2 separate regions of the Homo sapiens genome follow, and region 2 is linked to region 1. The links come from fine-mapping of genetic effects on gene expression. A gene starts in region 1. The other region holds a variant in brackets. All regions are shown on one strand. Distances are from middle to middle.

Region 1 (10,447 bases):
TCAGCAGAGCATTCCACCAAGTGTGGGCTCTTCTGAGAGCAGGCCGTGTGCTACTGAACAGAGTGTATGTCAGTGAAGCTGGTGAACTTTAGGATGGAATGAGTATGTGTATGTGGGGAGGGGGTATAATAAATGTTATGGGGGGACTAGACTCTCTGCAGTCTCTCCAGAGTACCACCACCGTGCTGCTTCCTTTCTTGCACCTTTCTAATCTATCTACCACATTCCATAGCCAAAACGATTGTTTAAATAAATGTATATCAGATCATGTCTCTCCTGTCTTCAAACCTGTCAATAGTTTTCCATGTCACCATAAATAAAGTGCAAAATCTTCATGTCGGAAAGGGTCCTATTTACTCTGACCCTGATGACCTCTTTAATCTCATTTCAGGCCTCTTTTCTCTATCATTCTATGCATTCCTATCAAACAGGACTCCTTTCATTTTTTCTAATGTACCAAGTTCTTTCCCATCTCTGAGTGTTTGCACATGCTGTTTCCTCCATTTCGAATATTAGATCCCCCTAGTCTTGCTTTTTCTTCAGAATACTTAACACAGTTTATAATCATGTAAATACATAATTCTGATAAGGATTTGTTTATATCTGGCTACGTCACTAGGCTGTAAGCTCGTTGAGGGTAAGTTTGTTGATGACTGCATTGGTGATTACTGTATGTTGAGAACTTAGCACAGTGCTGGGTATATAATATATAATCAGTAAATATTTGTTGAAAGAATGAAAAAACTATCAATTCATTCAGGCTTATAAATCAGAATTGCTTCTTGGCTGAGCACAGTGGCTCATACCTGTAATCCTAGCACTTTGGTAGGCCAAGGCGAGTGGATCTCTTGAGATCAGGAGTTCAAGACCAGCGTGGGCAACATGATGAAACCACATCTCTATAAAAAGAAAAAAATATATATAAATATATATACATATATAAAATAATTGCTTCTTTCCAGGTGCTTCTAATCTGATATCACAGGATCCCTATCTGGAGACAAGTAGCATGATGGTTGCTTTCATTAACACCATTCTCTTTGGCTATGGATGATTCAAATGGCCTAATCATCTCTTTTATCATCCATTCATTAATGCCATTTATTGTGCCCTCTGTAGCAAATTTCTCTTGAAGTAATTTCATTTTGTCCTGTTACAGGTATTATTGTAACAAGCTTCTTTAGGTTTACTACTTTCTCTTCTCTCTCTCTCTTTTTTTTTTTTTTTCTTTGTAGGGATGGATTTTTGCCATGTTGCCAGGCTGGTCTTGAACTCCTGAGCTCAAGAGATCCACTTGCCTCAGCCTCCCAAAGTGCTAGGATTACAGGCACGAGCCACTGTACTGGACCATCTCTTCTCTTTCATTTGTTCTGCAGTAATTTACCTTATTTAAGCTTCAGGGAGGTTTGCCTTCTGGCTTTACCATGTACAAGAACTGACTGTTACTCTCTGCCTGTTTTGTACAGGAGCACAAAAATGAGGCAGCAAACGCATTACTTTTCTTTATGCTGATGCTCTGGAAAATATTATGCCCTAAAGAGGGAGGTTAACTGTCCTCCTTGCCCTTACCACTATAAACCAGACAGAAATTTAAAATATGGAAACAGTGTTTTTTATTCTGTGTCAGGGTTTTAAACTTGGTCAACCTCCCGGAACTGTATGCCTATTTTATACTTTAATCGGTTTATGTACATGTTCATTTTTCTGGAAAGGATCTATATTTTTATTAGGTCCTTAGAGAAGTCAGAGATCCCAAAAAAGTGCCCTGGGCTTTGTATCCTGCTTTACTTCTCCTTGTAAGTGATCAAATCCACAAGGCTGATTGTGTTCTTTCTCTAAATCACTTTGTGTTATGACTTCAGGATGCATCTTGAACTTTGTTTTCAAGTGAACTTTGTAAACAAGTCCTCAGCTTAAAAGACATTTTGAACTATATTAATAATAAATGCATCATAAAATTTCCTGTTTGATAAAGGAGGCATCTGAGATAATTATGCAATGCACTTAGCTACTCACATTTTAGTTATTCTTATTAATATCATTGATATTTATTATTTTTCAATGCTTCTCTGAAAGACCTGAGTATGGCCACTCTGGCTTTAAGAACTGTGTCCACAGTGCTAGCTGAGAAACCACTACCACATATTTTTTTAAACTCCAAACTTTACTAAGAATCAGGCTTGGATATAGGGCCTAAAAATCATTCAATTGGAATGTGAAGAAGTTGAAACACCATTACGCAAAAACCCTTTAGCATATGTGTATGTGTGTCTCCCTAATGTCAGGATGTACACATTTATTACAGTGGTTTGGAGGTTTATTTGTAATCTGACCTTTTGAAATTCTGGAGCACACAAAAAAAGTAGATCTTCATTAACAAGGATTTTTTTTTCTTTTTCTTTTCTCTTTTCTTGCCAGAAATTTAAAGATGTTTCTTCCTTCACTTCCTTCCTTCCTTGTACTGTCCTTGCTCAACGTGAATCTACAATCACTGCCACTTGAATGGATGCAACTTATGTTAATAAATTGCCAGGATCAGAACTCCCACTGCAGCATTTCCTTCTCCATAGAACCACTGAACCAGAAATGCATTCTAGTGATTTTTTTTTGTCGTTAACGATGATTAATTAAACAAACTCGAGATTTCACGAGAAAAAACATAGATGCCCAGATTTAACAAACTCCTTATCTTTTTTCGACTTAAACCCACGAAGCTTTGGGGAGCACTCTAGCCCCTGCTACTCACCCATGCAAGCGGGGTGCGCGCTCGCGCACACACTCACTCACTCCAAGATAGGGGCTTTCTAGGAAAATACTTTGAGCTGCCAATCCAAGATTTTACTTAAAGAATTGACTTGGTTCTCAAGTGACAGATCTCTAAGTGCCAGAGCGGCAAAGTGCACCAGGCTGATAAAGTGCATGCCAAGACTCTCAGGTGGGAATTCTTGTCACAGCCAAGAGGTTGCTGGCATAGGCACCCGAGGCTGGCAGAGCCTAGCCTCTGAGTCTCCCTACACTCCTGGGCTTGCTTTCCTTTTTGAAGCTGCCTGCAGCTCAAAGAGGAGTTTGAACCAAGGGCACTTGCTTCGCGATCCTCCTGGCAGAGCCACAGCTCAAGTTTCCCCCACGGAATCACGAGCTTTTGTAAAGGGCAGCGAGGAGGCAGCGAGGTGGCAGCGAGGTACAGTCGCAGAGTTCTCTGGAGAACGAACACCCCCGCCGCGCCCCACCCCCCAGGACTGGTGGAGACTGGAAGGAACGAGTCCAGACCACGGGACCTTCCCTGGCCGTGGGCCGACGCCTAGCTGTCCTTGACCTCCCCAGCAGTCGGAGGCGCGCGCGGGAGAAATGAAAGTAAAACCTGTCCTGGCGCGGAACCAAGTGGAAGCTGGCGACAAGTAGGTCGCATCCTCAGAGCGACTGATAGCCAGTCCTGGATCTGCGCGAAGAGCTTGACTCGCAGAGGATAAAGTGAAAGGAAAAGGAAATGGGAGACAAGGGAGAAGAACAATAGTTAGGCTGGGGAGGCTCCTGGTCACCGAGCAGGCGTTCAGTAATAGCTGCTGTCTGCGGTGCAGACGGACTAGTCGCCCGGCCAGGCCACTTCGGTGACTGCCCTGCGCCCAGCCGGGCGGCCGGATCCAGACCAGTGCGCCGCGCTGCACTCCTCTAACCCTCCGCGTCCCAACCCCTTACCAGGGCCAGGGTCAGGGCCCGGAATCTGTCCTCCGTCCTCAGATGGAATTCAGGTCCGCTCAGGTGACTCCTTCCAGGAAGAGTCCTTAAATAACTTCCGCGCGGCCATTTCTTCCCCAGGTGCAATGTCCACTGTTGAGTCCCGAGAGTGAAAAGGCAGCTAAGCCAGCAGTGCGCGGCCCAGACAGACCACTCTGGGCAAGGTCCGCGCGACCCACTGCCCAGCCGCCTTTGCACCGGAGCTCAGAGCCATATGGCAGAGTAGGAAGGAAGCTTAAAGGTCTGCTGGGGACCGGCTCTAAGATGGGGACTCGAGAGATGGGACATGACTCGCCCACCTTCACACAGCGAATTGCCGGGAGGTGAGGACTAGAAGCCTGTTTGGCTAGTGGTCTCGCACCTTTGGCCTCTCCGTCGAGTCGCTGGGCTTCAGGACATTCGATTAGAGGAGTGGTTAGTAGGACCCCAGAAACCCACAAGCACGAAGCAGGAAGCCCCGTGGCTTAGCCTTTCCTTCCCAGTTTGGCCCCCAGGAGAGAAGTAAGAAAGAGAAGAAGCTGTGATGAAAGAGCACAAACGGGTGACAAACGTGTCTAGCGTGATTCATCATGAACAGGCACAAATTCTTTGGGCGGGGGCTAGGACTCTCCTTTGCCCCTTGAGAAGTTGGTGACCCCAGCCTAGAGGAATCCACGCCGCGCCCCAGTCGGCCGTGCTAGCGTGTCGGGCCGAGTAGGGACTCTGCTGCTTCCTACCTGCAGGGTGACTTCCCCTCTCTGCAGATACCTCCCCTCTCTGAGCTTGAATTTTCTACCTGCTGAAATGGGAAAAGGAATGTTACCTTCCTTGCCTGACTCAAGGGTGGCTGTGAAGCTCAAAGTAGACTGGGATGTGGCCGTGCTTGGTAAACTGTAAAATGATTAGCATACGTGAAGCGTTAGTGTGCTCCCTGGCAGTCAGTCCTCACGTTTACGATGGATTAATGAAGGCAGCCAGGCACAATCTCAGGTTATGACCTTATAAGGCATAATAGGATTACAAGGAGGCAAAATGAAACAGTATATTTCCTCCTAATTTTGGTTATTCCTATGTTTCCAAATAGAAATGAAAATTCTGAAATTTCAGATAATTCCCCCCTCCAAATCCCAATTCTCAATTTAGCTTTTCTGAGCCTTGTCCCTACCGTGAAATCTTACTAGCTCACCCCGAAACGCCGGGGTCTTGGTCCTCTGGGGGACTAGTGAGTCCTGCTCCTCTCGGCTTTGCTCCGTCCCTGCCCCGGCCCCTCCGCGGGAGTCTGGGGTCGCGGCCCGGTCAGGCGCCAAGCCGGCAGGGGGGCGCGGTCCACTTGAGGCCACAGCTCCCCAGGTCCAGGGCTCGGGCCATCCGCGCTGTCCCTTCCGCGGGCTCTTGCTGTTCTTCGCCAGGAGGCTTTGCACTCCGGGCCGCATGGGTCCTGGATAAGGACCTCAAGAGGTTGTAGTGGCGCCCCTTCGCTCCGGCGTACTGTCTGAACCCTGTGCCCAAAGAGGGCTGTGGCAGTTCCTGCACCAACCGCCTGGAGCCCATACCTAAGCCCTCTGGGCACGAGGGACCTCCTCTCCCCCGCTCCCCCCTCCCCCCATCCCAACTCCAGCCCCAAAGGAAGCAATGCGCGCGTCCGAGAGCAGGAGCGCGCGTGGCTGAGGAAAGAAAGGGAAGGCAACCGGGCAGCCCAGGCCCCGCCCCGCCGCTCCCCCACCCGTGCGCTTATAAAGCACAGGAACCAGAGCTGGCCACTCAGTGGTTTCTTGGTGACACTGGATAGAACAGCTCAAGCCTTGCCACTTCGGGCTTCTCACTGCAGCTGGGCTTGGACTTCGGAGTTTTGCCATTGCCAGTGGGACGTCTGAGACTTTCTCCTTCAAGTACTTGGCAGATCACTCTCTTAGCAGGTAGGTGCCGCAGACCCTGCGGGTTAAGAGGTGGGGTGGGGGGCAGTGCTTGCCAAGGCCCTAAACTGGGAGCGCTGGGTGAGGGGAACAACCCACTTTGGAGGGTTCTCTGAGAGATAGATACACCCCATATCCTGGGCCCAGCTCGTGCACACAGCTGGAGGTCCAGAGACCCAGTCCCCTCTGCTCCGTCAGCCAAGTTCCAAGAAGTTGAGCAGAGACCCTCTGGGAGCCTGGCGGGGTGCAGCGGCCTCCCCTGCGGGGCCTGTCACCCGGCCGGCGCGTGCAAACGCCTCTGGCGCCTCTCTGCGCGGAGGGAGATAAGCGTCTGAGCCAGGGAAAGCGCGGGCTAAACCCGCCTCGCCGGGGCCCCTGCCCGCCCTCCGTGCCCCGCCCGGGCGGTGCAGCTGGCCCGGGTGCTCACGCTCGACTCTCTTTCTTCTTTTCCAGGGTCTGCGCTTCGCAGCCGGGATGAAGCTGGTTTCCGTCGCCCTGATGTACCTGGGTTCGCTCGCCTTCCTAGGCGCTGACACCGCTCGGTTGGATGTCGCGTCGGAGTTTCGAAAGAAGTGAGTCCGGGCAGCGCCTTCCCCCTTGCTGGTACCTGGCAGGCAAGGGGAACTGACCGTTGGTCCCGAAGGTCTAGAAGTGAATGGGAGCAGGGACAGGCCTGGGCGTCACCTGAACGCACGCGAATCGGGTCTGCTTGTGTTTTCCAGGTGGAATAAGTGGGCTCTGAGTCGTGGGAAGAGGGAACTGCGGATGTCCAGCAGCTACCCCACCGGGCTCGCTGACGTGAAGGCCGGGCCTGCCCAGACCCTTATTCGGCCCCAGGACATGAAGGGTGCCTCTCGAAGCCCCGAAGACAGGTAACTACGCCCTGTGCTGTCCAGGGACGGGAGGGAAGGAAGGTGTGCGGGAGGAGTTCTCTGTCTCCACTCCCCTGGCCCGGGGGATCGTCGGGGCTGGACCGCAGCTCAGATGGCGCGAGCAGTTTCCAGCTCCCTCTGGCTCTAGAATGGCTCCCGTTCCCGGTGTTGGGGCCAAAGCTCTGCTTGATGGGGTCTCAAGTTGCCTTTCTTCCCCCTCCCCCCGCCCGCAGCAGTCCGGATGCCGCCCGCATCCGAGTCAAGCGCTACCGCCAGAGCATGAACAACTTCCAGGGCCTCCGGAGCTTTGGCTGCCGCTTCGGGACGTGCACGGTGCAGAAGCTGGCACACCAGATCTACCAGTTCACAGATAAGGACAAGGACAACGTCGCCCCCAGGAGCAAGATCAGCCCCCAGGGCTACGGCCGCCGGCGCCGGCGCTCCCTGCCCGAGGCCGGCCCGGGTCGGACTCTGGTGTCTTCTAAGCCACAAGCACACGGGGCTCCAGCCCCCCCGAGTGGAAGTGCTCCCCACTTTCTTTAGGATTTAGGCGCCCATGGTACAAGGAATAGTCGCGCAAGCATCCCGCTGGTGCCTCCCGGGACGAAGGACTTCCCGAGCGGTGTGGGGACCGGGCTCTGACAGCCCTGCGGAGACCCTGAGTCCGGGAGGCACCGTCCGGCGGCGAGCTCTGGCTTTGCAAGGGCCCCTCCTTCTGGGGGCTTCGCTTCCTTAGCCTTGCTCAGGTGCAAGTGCCCCAGGGGGCGGGGTGCAGAAGAATCCGAGTGTTTGCCAGGCTTAAGGAGAGGAGAAACTGAGAAATGAATGCTGAGACCCCCGGAGCAGGGGTCTGAGCCACAGCCGTGCTCGCCCACAAACTGATTTCTCACGGCGTGTCACCCCACCAGGGCGCAAGCCTCACTATTACTTGAACTTTCCAAAACCTAAAGAGGAAAAGTGCAATGCGTGTTGTACATACAGAGGTAACTATCAATATTTAAGTTTGTTGCTGTCAAGATTTTTTTTGTAACTTCAAATATAGAGATATTTTTGTACGTTATATATTGTATTAAGGGCATTTTAAAAGCAATTATATTGTCCTCCCCTATTTTAAGACGTGAATGTCTCAGCGAGGTGTAAAGTTGTTCGCCGCGTGGAATGTGAGTGTGTTTGTGTGCATGAAAGAGAAAGACTGATTACCTCCTGTGTGGAAGAAGGAAACACCGAGTCTCTGTATAATCTATTTACATAAAATGGGTGATATGCGAACAGCAAACCAATAAACTGTCTCAATGCTGATTCATTCTCTCGGCTCGGCTCTCACGTCTAGGAAGGGAGGGTGCCCTGGTCCCGGCCCGCCCAGGAGCCTTGGGGTCCCGCCGCCGGGCTTGGGAAGGTGGGACAGCGGCGCGTGCAGGTGCTGGCCCTACTCTGAGCGGGCTGAGCTGTCACGAGCTCTGTTCTCTGTGTGGGGCGCGCAGAACACGTGTCCTGGGTGCGAATCAGGGCTTCGCGGAGACGCCCGAGGTCACCGCCTGGCGTGGCGGCCGGCGGGGGGTGGGTAGGGGGAGCCCTAGTGGGTTGGCGAGCCTGGACTCTCGGGTTGCGCAACGGAGTCCTAGATTTATAGGGTTGCTCACAGAACCCGGCGCGAAAGCGAGCTTCGAAGAGTTGGGGTGGTCTCTGAGGCCTTCTAAGAGAGGCGTTCCCCCTGCCTGCCGCGGTTGTTAAAGTTCCAAGCCGCCCTAGCAATGCGTGGGGACACCTCCGGAAAACCCAGTAACCCCTAGTAACCCCGGGTCTGCCCGGGCCTGAGCGCCCGCGGGCCGCTGGCTCATGGGCGAGGCTGTAGCGCCCCCTGCAGGCAGCTGAGACAGGCCCAGCGCCGCCAAGCAGTACGTGCGGTTTAATAAGTTCTCCTACGTGGGAGTCAGCACACAGCCTTAATGAAAGAGGAAAGAAAGAAAAAAAAAAAGAGAGAAAGAAACAGTTTGCAGATGCCAACCAGGGCCGTCCTCCTACACCCCCCAGACCTGCACCGCGGCTCCCTGTTCTGGGACAGTGACTCAGCGCCCACACGCTGCGCTGCGTGCAGCTGCCGGCTGGAGGCGGGCAGGACGGACGTGCCGGCGGAACCGTGAGCCTCCGACGGCCTGAGACCTTCATTGTTCCGCCTCCCCTAGCCGCTCACCTCTTCCTTCCTCCTTCCCAAGCCTTTTTTCATTTTTTTCTTCACTTTTCTCCAGCCTTCCTCTCTCTCTCTCCTTCCTTCCTCCTTGCTTTCTTTATATGCCTTATCTTCTGAGAAGGTTGACCCCAGTTCCGGCGATAGACGGACACTAAGCCCCCCTTGAGTGACTAGAAAGGCAGGGGACATAGGAACAGTTAGGACATAAGGGAAGAGTAAAGAGAGGGACCCCTGATTTTGATTTCAGGGTGCCCTGTTTGTCTCATCCAATATCCTGAAGACCCAAGATGGAGACCAGCTACTTGTCCCTTCCAAAAAGCTTCCCTGGCCTTAATGTCAGTGCTTGTAGGTGATCTCAGAAACCTCCCTGGTGAAGAAAACCTGAAGGTGAGTTTGGAGAATGGAAATGTTTCCAGGGTAGCCTACGGCCTTCTGGGGCTTTTGCACATTACAGGGTCCCCTCCGAGGGGCTAGGATGTTTAGTTTCTTGCAGAAGAGGACTGCATACCCACTGAGAGAGAGGGGCCCTACTCTGGGGTCCAGAGATACCTCATTCCAAAGCAGTTTCAATTTAGAAGAAAGTAAACTCGAGTACATAGAATTTCCTTAAGACCATACAAAACCTCAGTTTGGGCACCTGGCTGTTGACAATGCCAATCTCATATAGTTTATTGTCCTGTTTGATCTTAATAATTGTGTGAGGTGTGCCAGAATTGAGGAGGTTAGAAATGCAGCTACAGACCATTCTTGTCCTCAAGGGCCTTTCAGAAAAAGATTCACTTTGTGGGAACTCTGTGCCAGGCACTGAGAAGGTACCAGGCATGTATGAATGAAAGAGTGACTCAAGATTCCTGTCATGGAATTTCTGTGCCAGTGAGTGGGTTCTGGGTGGTCTGAAGGGGCTACAGAAACTGCAGAGAGCAGCAAACACTTAAGCCTCGCAGACAGTGGCGCAAGATTACTCCTTTCCTTGAGCCAAGGTTGTCCTGTAGCCACAAAGCACTCCAGCCAAACCTCACCTTGGCACAGCGTCAGCCAGCAAACAAAGCTGCCAAAGGCAGGTTGGGCACAAGCTTCGGGCGGTTGTGAGCAGGGAACAGGCGTCTAGCCTTGTGCTGAGGAAGTCTTATGACTTGAGGGAATCCAAGGCAAGTGAAGGAGATGGTTCAGCCCTAAGACAAAAGAGGCAGCTGCTCAGCTGGAGTCCTTCCCGCTGAGAATCCTGTGACTGGAGACATGTGCGAGGAGACAGAGACCCTCCTAAGACCAGTTTGGTATGAGTTCAGGATTAACCAAAGGTCACCATCAAACCCCGGGCTCTTCTCTTTGAGGTGCTGAAGCTTATCAGGATAGGGACTATTGATGCCAAGAACACATTGTTTATCAACAGTGATGAGTCATTTGTGAGCTGATTCGACCTGTCCACAGCTGAGGAGTAGTCACAGCTTTTATCTTTAGCTACTGTTGCTTGCTGTGGGAATGATACCATACATTTGTAATCAAACACGGGGTATCAGGCAATTTCTTGAAAAGCCAACACCTTGGCTGAACAGCCAAGGGTGAAGGGGAGTGATGGGGAGGAATGGAAACAGATTCCTTTTTTAGCACTTGCTTGGTGTCAGATATTCTCTTTGCCACTTTATACACCTTATCTCATTTAATTCTTACAACAGCCTTGTGAAGTAGGTGTTATCTGTTTATTGATAAGGAAACAACCTCAGAGACATAAAGTAACTCAGCCAAGGTTACACAGTGAATAA
Region 2 (10,447 bases), 38 kb before region 1:
AAACTTCTAACAAACATAATAATGTGGATATACTTCAAAAACATGCTGAGTGAAAGAAGCCTTACATAAAGAAATATGTGCTATATGATTCCATTTCTATGATGTTCTAGAATAGGAAAAATTAATCTATGGCAGACAAAAAAATCAGAACAGTGACTGCCTCTGGGAGGACAGGGCAGGAAGTGACTCAGAAGGGGCATAATATACTGTATCTTAATACATGTTTAAATTACAAAGATGTGTAAAATTCCAGGAATGTAAATTTAAGATTTATTTCATTATATGTGAACATTGCATCAAAAGAAAAAAAAAGTCCCCAAAATTGCATTATGGTTAATTATATGCATGCCAAACTAGTTTGGGGGAAGATACTGGTATCAATAATTTACTGTGAAATACATCCAAAAAAAGATAGATTAGTGGATGATATAGGAATCAACAGATGGAGTAATATATGATAAAACAGGTATAATAAAATGTTAATTGTACAAAGTGTAGGTAGTACTATACAGGCGTTTGGTATAAATTCTTTCAACTTCGTTGTATTTGAAATTTTTCATAATCAAATGTTGTAGAGGAAAAAAAGCCTCATCCAATCCTTCAAAGTGCAACTCAAAATAAACTACTTCCATGAGCCCTTTCCTGTCACCCTCAGCCTTCTGAACCTAGTCTTACTGTCTAGAGCACTCACCTGGCAATATGATAATTATCTTTCCACAGACATCTCATCCTTATAAAATAGACTATAAGCCTCTTAGGGGCTGCTCTCTGATGCGAGGGTAGAAAAGAGTTTAGTGATCTGTTTATTATGCTTTCTATGTATGTATAAATTATTTTATTTTATAAACCGTAACTTCCAAAAGACAACTGTCAGTCAACTAAAATGTAAATACATAGATGTATATGCATACACTACACACACACATTGAAAGCTAAAAACTTTTAACCAAGTATCCTTGATTTTTTTGAGTCCTTGATTAATGAAATATCCTATACCTGCTGAATTCAACTTAATAGTTCATCTATGCAAAAATAATTGGTTGATGCTTTCTCTAAATGTTCTGCAAAGAGCTATGACACCAGAGGTCTCAGATTCTTTACCTGAGGATAAAAGGATCCTCAGGGAGTCTATAATTTTACTACCATATAAGACGAAAAAAAAACTTGCATTAACAAGTAATGACATTCTTTAAAATTAATAAATATTTTATCAGTGTTCAATACAACATTTAATCCTAAAGAAATTGTACTACTTCCCTGTTTTAAAAAATTATATACAATATACATTTAGAATCTTAAAATCTCCTCCTTATAGATACCTTCTTTCTATACCTATTGAAGGCCAATTGATAAATCATTCAAGAATCTTCTGTTATCCTTTTAAATAAAAAAAATCAGCACAATAAATCAACATTTCAGACAAAAGAAAATAAGCACATTATTCATATTTTATATGGTTTTAATAATAATTACACATTTTTATCCCCCAAAGAAAAATTATGAAGCTGGAAGTATCAGATATAGTAAAAATTCAAGTTTTTTTTTAATTTGTGTGAATTATAATGACATAATGCTGGAAGAAACCACACTTTACTTTCTGTTTAGAGGGGTTGCCCTGACTTCCATGTATGAATGATCAAGAGAATGAATTACAGTCTTCTTAAAACCTTAATGATAACTATGGTTAATTCAAGCTACAATAGGTTAATTACTAGTATCAAGAGACATGCAGTAACTTCTACTAGAATAAACTCTGACCTTTAAATAAGTCAGAGACTCTTACTACTAATAAGTACCTAATTAAACATTAGGTTCCTTATTTATAAAGTGAAGGGTTTGTATAAAATCTCTGCTGTACTTAAGAATAGAAGCCTTTGGCTACATTAGAGAATACTCAACTCCATTCACCCGGAAAAATGACATAGAAGAATATACCATATCAAATGAAAACTTTATCCTGGCTGAAATTAAACTCTCTGGAATATATTAAACACATTTGAACATCCTTACGGAAAAGGTGAGGAAACACTTGAACAGTCCAAATTATCCACTTAAAAACGAAAAAACAACAATATCCAAAAATCCCATCATTCAAGCATTATCTGAGGAAAATTATCCAAACAGGTCTTAACAATAACCTGATAACTACAAAAATATTCATGATTTATAAAGTTAATATTAAAAAATAAGAACTACAAGATAATCCAAGGTGCTTATGTGAATGTGCTTCTGCCTTAGGTAAAGCTTACTAAGGAATATTTGTCAACAGCAGGCAGCTTGGAGATCTTCAAGCTTTACATCATCAAATTCCAAGATGGTTTTACTGCCAAACTGCCCTCTTTATAGCTCTTGAGTATTCCTTATAATGGGGAAGGAATGCTCAGCAACCATAATCTTCCTCCCACTCCTATCAGTAACTGGTACAGTGATACTTGGTCACCTTCTTCTCTAATCCAAATACTCACAATACTTCAGGGAAATAAAGCTCAGCTTCTCATTAGAAAAAATGTTGAGAATAACTGACAGAGTTATAATAAAGATCTCACCTATGTATACTAAAAATTCTTTTAGGGAAGATTATATAGGGAGATGCATGCTTGAAAAGAAAATGGGAGCAGAAGGATAGCATCTAGGCTGCCATCCCATCTTAGTATAATTGCTCATTCAATATTAATTCAATATGTATTTACCAAGGGTCTTCCATGTGCCAGGTATTTTGCCAGGTACTACAAAAAAAATGAGCAGAAAACAGTTCCTACTTTATTTATTTTTTTATTTTTGTTAATTTTTAAAATTTTTATTATACTTTAAGTTCTGAGGTACATGTGCAGAACGTGCAGTTTTGTTACATAGTTATATACATGCTACGATGGTTTGCTGCACCTATCAACTCGTCACCTACATTAGGTATTTCTCCTAATACTATCCCTCCCCTAGCCCCCCACCCCCCGACAGGCCCTGGTGTGTGATGCTCCCCTCCCTATGTCCATGTGTTCTCATTGTTCAACTTCCACTTATGAGTGAGAACATGTGGTGTTTGGTTTTCTGTTCTTAGGATAGTTTGCTGAGAATGGTTTCCAGCTTCATCCATGTCCCTGCAAAGGACATGAACCCAACCTTTTTTAAGGCTGCATAGTATTCCATGGTGTCTATGTGCCACATTTTCTTTATCCAGTCTATTATTGATGGACATCTGGGTGGGTTCCAATTCTTTGCTATTGTGAGTAGTGTCGCAGTAAACATACGTGTGCATGTGTCTTTACAGCAGAATGATTTATAATCCTTTGGGTACATACTCAGTAACAGGATTGCTAGGTCAAATGGTATTTCTAGTTCTAGATCCTTGAGGAATTGCCACTCTGTCTTCCACAATGGTTGAACTAATTCACCCTCCCACCAACAATGTAAAAGCATTCCTATTTCTCCGCATCCTCTCCAGCATTCTGTTGTTTCTTGACTTTTTAATGACTGCCATTCTAACTGGTGTGAGATGGTTATTTCACTGTGGTTTTGATTTGCATTTCTCTAATGACCAGTGATGATGAGCATTTTTTTCATATGCATGTTGGCTGCATAAATGTCTTCTTTTGAGAAGTGTCTGTTCATATCCTTTGCCCACTTTTTGATGGGGTTGTTTTTTTCTTGTAAATTTAACAGTTTCTATCTTTAAAAGCTCACAGTCAAGTGCAGAAATCGGGGGGGGGGAGAGGTGGGGGGGTATCAACACAGGGTATCTTTTTAAAATATGTCAATGAATATACAAACATACAGTCAATATAAAAAATCTAGAGAACTCAATGAAAACCACATGCAGCTTAAATTCTGTGAAACACGCCTAAATATTATGGACTTATGTGAAGAACATATATGCACCTATGTAAATAATAATAGCTGCCTTCTTTTTGAGACAGGGTCTCGCTCTGTTACCCAGGTTGGAGTACAAGTGGTGCAATCATGGCTCACCACAGCCTCAACCTCCCAGGCTCAAGCACTCCTCCCTCCTGCCTCAGCCTCTCAAGTAGATGGGATCACAGGTGCACACCACCAGGCCAGGCTAATTGTGTGTGTGTGTGTGTGCGCGCGCGCATGTGTGTGTGTGTTTTAGAGATGGGGGTCTCATTTTGTTGCCCAGGCTGGTTTTGAACTTCTAGCCTCAAGTGATCCTCTCACCTTGGTCTCCCAAAGTGCTGGGATTACAGGCATGAGCCATCATGCCTGGCAGCCCAACCTGCCATTTTTTTTAGTACTTTTTCGGCTAGGCAGAAGACCTTGCTTATCAGTTCATTTAATCCTCATAACAATCACATGAGGCAGCTACTACTCATACTTTTATCCCAGATTTACAGAGGATAAACTCAGCTCTGTAGTTAAATGATTTGTCCACAGCCACATTCCAATAGGTGGCTAAGCACAAACTCAGGTTGTTTGACGCTAGAACTTAATGCTACTTGTGACCAGTCAATCGCCATGCTACCTCATACAGACCCTCACTGCAGAATTACAGAGGAGAGGACACTATTTGTGCAATTAAAGACCTCTCGGCCAAGGACAGAGCACTGAGACTGTAAAGGACTAGGAGACACTGATCACTATGGGGAGGGGATATCCCTGCATGCAGGACAACAGGACCCAGGCTAGATACGGGTAAATGCAGATTTCCTCTGCTACTGACACTGTTTAGATACCGTGAGACATTCTGAGTATGAAGTTGAAGCTAGTAGCAAACTACTCAAAGATTAAATACAAAGTGACATAAACATTCCTTTTAAAAAAAAATTACTCTGGTGGCAATATGGAACTAGCTAGAGAAGAATTTAACTGAAAGCAAGGAAATAAAGAGATGTCTACACTTGATTAGTTATTTCCTAACAGCTATGATGATGATGACAGTGATGATGATGGTGATAACAGAAGCTCCAATTTTAACATGAGGGATATGGACCACATTTCCCAGGATAAGTTTTGGCCAAAGGAAACGTAGTTGATTTTGGCCTTTAAACGGAAGAGGGTCCGGGCGTGGTTGCTCACGCCTGTAATCCCAACACTTTGGGAAGCCGAGGCTGGCAGATGGTTTGAGGTCAGGAGTTCGAGACCAGCCTGGCCACCACAGTAAAACCCCGTCTCTACCGAAAATATAATACAAAAATTAGCCAAGTGTAGTGGCACATGCCTTTAATCCCAGCTACTTAGAAGGCTGAGGCAGGAGAATCGCTTGAACCTGGGAGGATGAAGTTGCAATGGGCCGAGATCGTGCCACTGCACTCCAGCCTGGGTGACAGTGAGACTCCATCTCAAAAATAAATTAAATTAAATTAAATTACATTAAATTAAATTAAAAAGGGAAGGGGGCTATCTCTTCTTCCCTACTTCCTCCATCCTCCTACTTGGAATATAGATGGGATGGAGCTGAGATGCTAAGTACAAAGCTAGAAGCAGCCTGGTCCAGATGGCTATACAAACCCGAAACTGTCTACACCCAGACTTTAACTTTTAAAGAAATAAGTTTCTATATTGTTTGAGACACTTAAGTCCCTATTACTGGAAGCCAAACCTCTATCCTAACAGAGTGCACTTTATAGTAATCCGAGTAAGAACTGATAAGGGCCTAAACTATGGCAGTGACTGTGAAAACAGAGGAAAAAAAAGATGTGAGAAAATTTTGAGGGAAAAAAAAACAACACTTT[G/A]AAGTGAAGGTGAGAGAGAAAGGAGTGTGGCAAGTTTCTGACTTGAGCGAATGGCCAAGGGGAAGAGGTTTGAATGAGCCAGATATGCTTGAACATGCTGCATTTTCTTTTCTTTCTTTTTTTTTGAGACAGGGTCTTACTCCTACTTGGAATATAGATGGGATGGAGCTGAGTGGCTAAGTACAAAGCTAGAAGCAGCCTGGTCCAGATGGCTATACAAACCCGAAACTGTCTACACCCAGACTTTATTCTTCTACAACCAAATTCCTCAAACACACAATCTGAACAGTAGCAGTGAAAGGGAGTTTAAGGTGGGGGTGAGGGAGAAGGGAGTAATATGGTTTTTTAGTAATATAGTAATTTACATTTTCAAAAATCTTCAGTGTTTCACTATCTTAAATGAATATTTATTCTGTTGTTCCTCTCATTTCTTTCCTCCTGTTAAAAAAATGACTTTTATTAACTCCAATCTCATGTGGATTTGGGTTTACTCACGCTAAGATTTGGTAAAACATCTGTCTCCAAAGAAAAACAAGTAACATTCTTTTCAAATTCCCTAGAAGACCGCGTAGGACAAGTATATGAAGCATTTATAAAATTCACTCCAGTCCCAACTGCTACTTTCCACTGTGAATTAATTTTCATACTATTATTGTCCAAGTTTGTTCTGACACTTGATTTCTCTCTGTAAATGTTACTAGAATTAACTTAAGCTAGGAAAAACAAAGGACATAGTTTTACCTACAAGCAGATGTCATTAACTATACAGATTTTTTTTTCCACTTAAAAACTTGCCACAAAACCACTTATTTTCTTTAAACAAGAATCTTCCATTTTAAGTTCTTAAACCTATATTTTAAATTACTATAAGGACAGAATGTTTGCTTGAAGAAAAAAAATAGAGAGATGTCAAGTTCCCAAACAATTTGTTTTCTTCAAATCATGGTATTAGTGAACCTTGTAAATTATTAATACAGTACACAAAAAGCTACAATGGATCAACGAAAAAGATGACATTTATAGAATGGTGTCATCAGTGGAAAATAGCCCTTTCCAGAAACAACACAAATTCTTTCTCCTAACTCAGTCTGTTAGGAAAATCACCAAAAGCCCTTCAACTGTCTACTCAATAAACAATCAGTAAATAATTGTTTACTTCCCAGTGTGTAAAGCATTCTGCTAAAAAAGTAGTAGTCTCTCTGTTGAAAGGACATTTTTTCCAGTTTCAAAAGTTTCTCTACGGATAGCATACTGTGATATATTTGGGCCATGCTCTCAAGGAACTCTTTTTCAGTCTAAAAAAATTAGACAAATGTAAACGGAAAGACCTTGAAATTTTCAGAACTCCAATTCCTTGTTTCAAACATTTCTAGGACACAGTAAAGACCAAAGACAAGCAGCAAAATGTTTCAGAGATGTAATCTGAAGGTCTGATCTCTCTGAACCAGCCCCTTAGCATCTTCGTCTTCATGAAGCTATGCAGTTTCCTCTGTTGTTTCTTAAGCAATACCTCATTAAGTGATTTTTTTTTCCTAATTAAAATCTCCCTGAAGGAAGTAGGTATACTCCCATACTACTACTGAGAGTATAAACTGACACATCTTTCTGCAAGGCATTTTAGCAATATACCTCAAAACTATTCAAAATGTTCTTTTGGCTTTCAGAAACAGCTGGAACCAGAAGTTTAGATAATGTTTCCAGAGCTATGTCTGTCTTTTCATTTTTTGACTATCCTTGCCTCAGCTTGTGTTCAATACTCAGAGACTCTCTAAACACAGTAAGGAAAACACACACTGGCAGCCTCAACTTAATCACAGTATCTTACCTTAGTCATCCTAGTGGGAAAAGATAGGCGTGCCAGTTTGTTCCAAAAGAAAACACCCAAGCTCTAACCGGTCCAGCTTAAAGTAGAGGGTAGGGTAACTAGGACTGAAACTTTCCCTGGAACCGTAGAGAAAAGAAGGCATGGTTCCCAAAGGAAGGGATGCCAGGAAGAAAATTCACATATGTCCATATAAACATACATATCCTTGACCCGGCAGTTCCATTTCTATGATGAAAATGTGGCACTATTATTGTGTACCAGACACTGTTTTACTTTACATGAAATAACTCATTTAATCTTCACAACATCTCTATGAGGTAGATACTACTATTTACTATTATCCAATTTTATGAATGCAGAAACTGAGACAGAAAAATTAAGTAACTTGTCTAAAGCCAGAACTACTAGGAGGCAAAACCAAGAATCAAGCTCAGACTATGTGGCTCCATCCCACACTTTATCTATTTTTGTAGAAATGGGGTCCCACTCTGTCACCTAGGCTAGAGTACAGTAGTGCAATCATAGCTCACTGGAACCTCAAATTCCTGGTTTGAAATGATCCTCCCACCTCAGCCTCCCAACTTGCTGGGATTACAGGAGTGAGCCACCACATCTAGCTCATCCCACACTTCTAACTTTTCTACTACTAAAATTTACTGCCTCTCTATTTGATCCTGAGAAATTAAAAATCAATGCAAAAATCTGGCTAGAACAATTCATCACAGCACTATTTATAACAGCAAAAATTTGGAAATAACAAAATTATCTAACCATGAGATTAACTGATAAATTTATTTACTTTAAATTATATATTAAAATGATAAAAACATTTTGTAGTTAATAAAAATTGATGTTATGTTTTATATATACAAAGTTGTCCCTGGAATAACTCAAGGGTTAGATGCACCAACCCCTGTGCAGTCAAAAATCTACATATAACTTATGACTCCCCAAAAAACTTTACTACTAATAGCCTACTCTTGACCAGAAGCCTTACAGATAACATAAATGGTAGATTAATACATATTGTTAATGTTTATATGTATTATATAATGTATTCTACAATAAAGCAGACTAGAGAAAAGAAAATGTTATTAATAAAATCATAAGAAAACACAGTTACTATTAAGTGGAAGCAGATCATCACAAAGGTCTTCATCCTTATTGTCCTCATGTTGAGTAGGCTGAGGAGGAGGAAGAGGAAGGGTTATTCTTGCTGTCTCAAGGGTAGCAGAGGCAGAAAAAAATGTGTATAAGTGGACCAACGCAGTTCAAATCCATGTTGTTGAAGAGTCAACTGTATATAGAACATGGAAAGCTTCCAATAACATGCAGATAAGTTTTAAAAACACAGCTTATATAAATGGATAGATGCTATAAACATGTTTTTAAGAAGTAAAATGAGGACGGGCGCGGTGGCTCACGCCTGTAATCCCAGCACTTTGGGAGGCCGAGGTAGGCGGATCACAAGATCAGGAGATTGAGACCATTGTGGCTAACACGCTGAAACCCCGTCTCTACTAAAAAACGGAAAAAAGTTAGCCAAGCCTGGTGGCGGGGGCCTGTAGTCCCAGCTACTGGGGAGGCTGAGGCAGGAGAATGGCGTGAACCCGGGAGGCGGACCTTGCAGTGAGCCAAGATTGTGCCACTGCACTCCAGCCTGGGCGACAGAGCAAGACTCTGTCTCAAAAAAAAAAAAAAAAAAAAAAAAAAAGTAGTAAAATTAATTATACATATATACGTATATGGATGCACACAAAAATCTCTGGAAATACATATGTTAAAATGTCAGCAGTATGCCACTTCTTACCCACTGGAGTGGTTATGATCAAAAAGACAGAATAACAAGGGAGTAGCAATTGCAAAACCAAGGACAGCAATCTTGATTCTTTTTTTTTTTTTTTTTTGAAGTTAAGAATTCTTTTAGGTTGTAATATTTTCATGTTAGTTTTTAATCATTTACAATGTTCTGTGGGTCACATTTTAAACATTTTTAAATATATGAAATTCTGTATTTCTTTAAGTACAGCCACAACTACAAAGCAGAGAAACGTAAGAATACAAAAATCAAATCTGCTTCATTTATATACACGATGGGGCAGCCTAATGCACATCATAACATTAACTTTTCCAAAGAAGTTTGCTAAGAATCTGCTCCCATAATTAGTGTTAAAAATAAAGCAATCTTCCCATTTAGAAAAATCAAGACATCAGTTGATTAATAAAGCCTATTCTTCCTCCCAGCAATTTGTACTTTCTGGTCTTCATTTAGGAATTATAAATTCATGAGAAAAGAACAAATTTTTTATGGAATAAATAACTTCCAGGAACAACAGTTTATAAGTATTCAGTTGTTTAAATAAACAAAACTATTTTCCTTCCTAAAATGTAAACATCCAGTAAATGAAACATACATGATATTCCAGGTATAGAAATCTTAGTAACTCACTTATGAAAGAGGTGCATTTTGGTATGTTTGGTGGTAAGGTTTTTGTTTATCTTATGTATAAAAGTACTTGCACAAAAAAACAAGCAGTTATTACTATTTAAAATTCTATTCCTTCACCCAGTTTTCTCACTCAAGTAGAAACTCATGAATATCTGTGATTTTGGCTATAGGACCAGGCCACAGGAAAGGGCTGAAATATCTCTAAAAGTTAGGTAAAAGTGTTTTCTTGAGACTTGAAGGCAGTCATTCATCACTTTGTGCTTGAAGGCATTCCTCAGCAAACTTCTCTCGAGTCTTCAGAGTAAAGCACAGGATCTAGGCTCCCGGAAGGGGTTACTTCCAGCTGGAACACCCACCAGCAGGGCATCCTTGCAGGCATTCTGCATACAGTACTGTTGAAGCTCTGCAGCTGCCTGAGAGACCTTGATCCTCTCCACGCCAGCCTCCAACTTGAGCTGCTCTACCAAGAGCTGCAGGGCGCTCGCGCTA

What was found.
Region 2: its variant is fine-mapped to the expression of ADM in whole blood (INTERVAL, PIP 0.94).

What each region holds. Positions count from the first base shown.
Region 1 is chr11:10,299,600-10,310,046 of GRCh38, forward strand. ADM (adrenomedullin) reads left to right here and starts at 5,474. Exons shown (of 4, transcript NM_001124.3): 1 at 5,474-5,630; 2 at 6,081-6,199; 3 at 6,350-6,499; 4 at 6,733-7,798. The coding sequence starts at 6,102. The coding sequence ends at 7,042. CAND1.11 (a long non-coding RNA gene) reads left to right here and starts at 8,714. Exons shown (of 4, transcript NR_103765.1): 1 at 8,714-9,074. It also overlaps a transcript of SBF2 not described here. RefSeq lists enhancers at 3,182-3,261, 3,282-3,461, 8,315-8,584 and silencers at 4,386-4,445, 4,936-5,035, 5,216-5,265, 5,946-5,995, 6,016-6,065 and 2 more.
Region 2 is chr11:10,261,799-10,272,245 of GRCh38, forward strand. All of the region lies in intron 1 of SBF2 (SET binding factor 2), which reads right to left. It also overlaps the pseudogene LOC653503. Among named protein-coding and RNA genes, the nearest start is that of SBF2, 27 kb to the right of the region's middle. The variant G/A (reference allele first, on the strand shown) is at 5,685.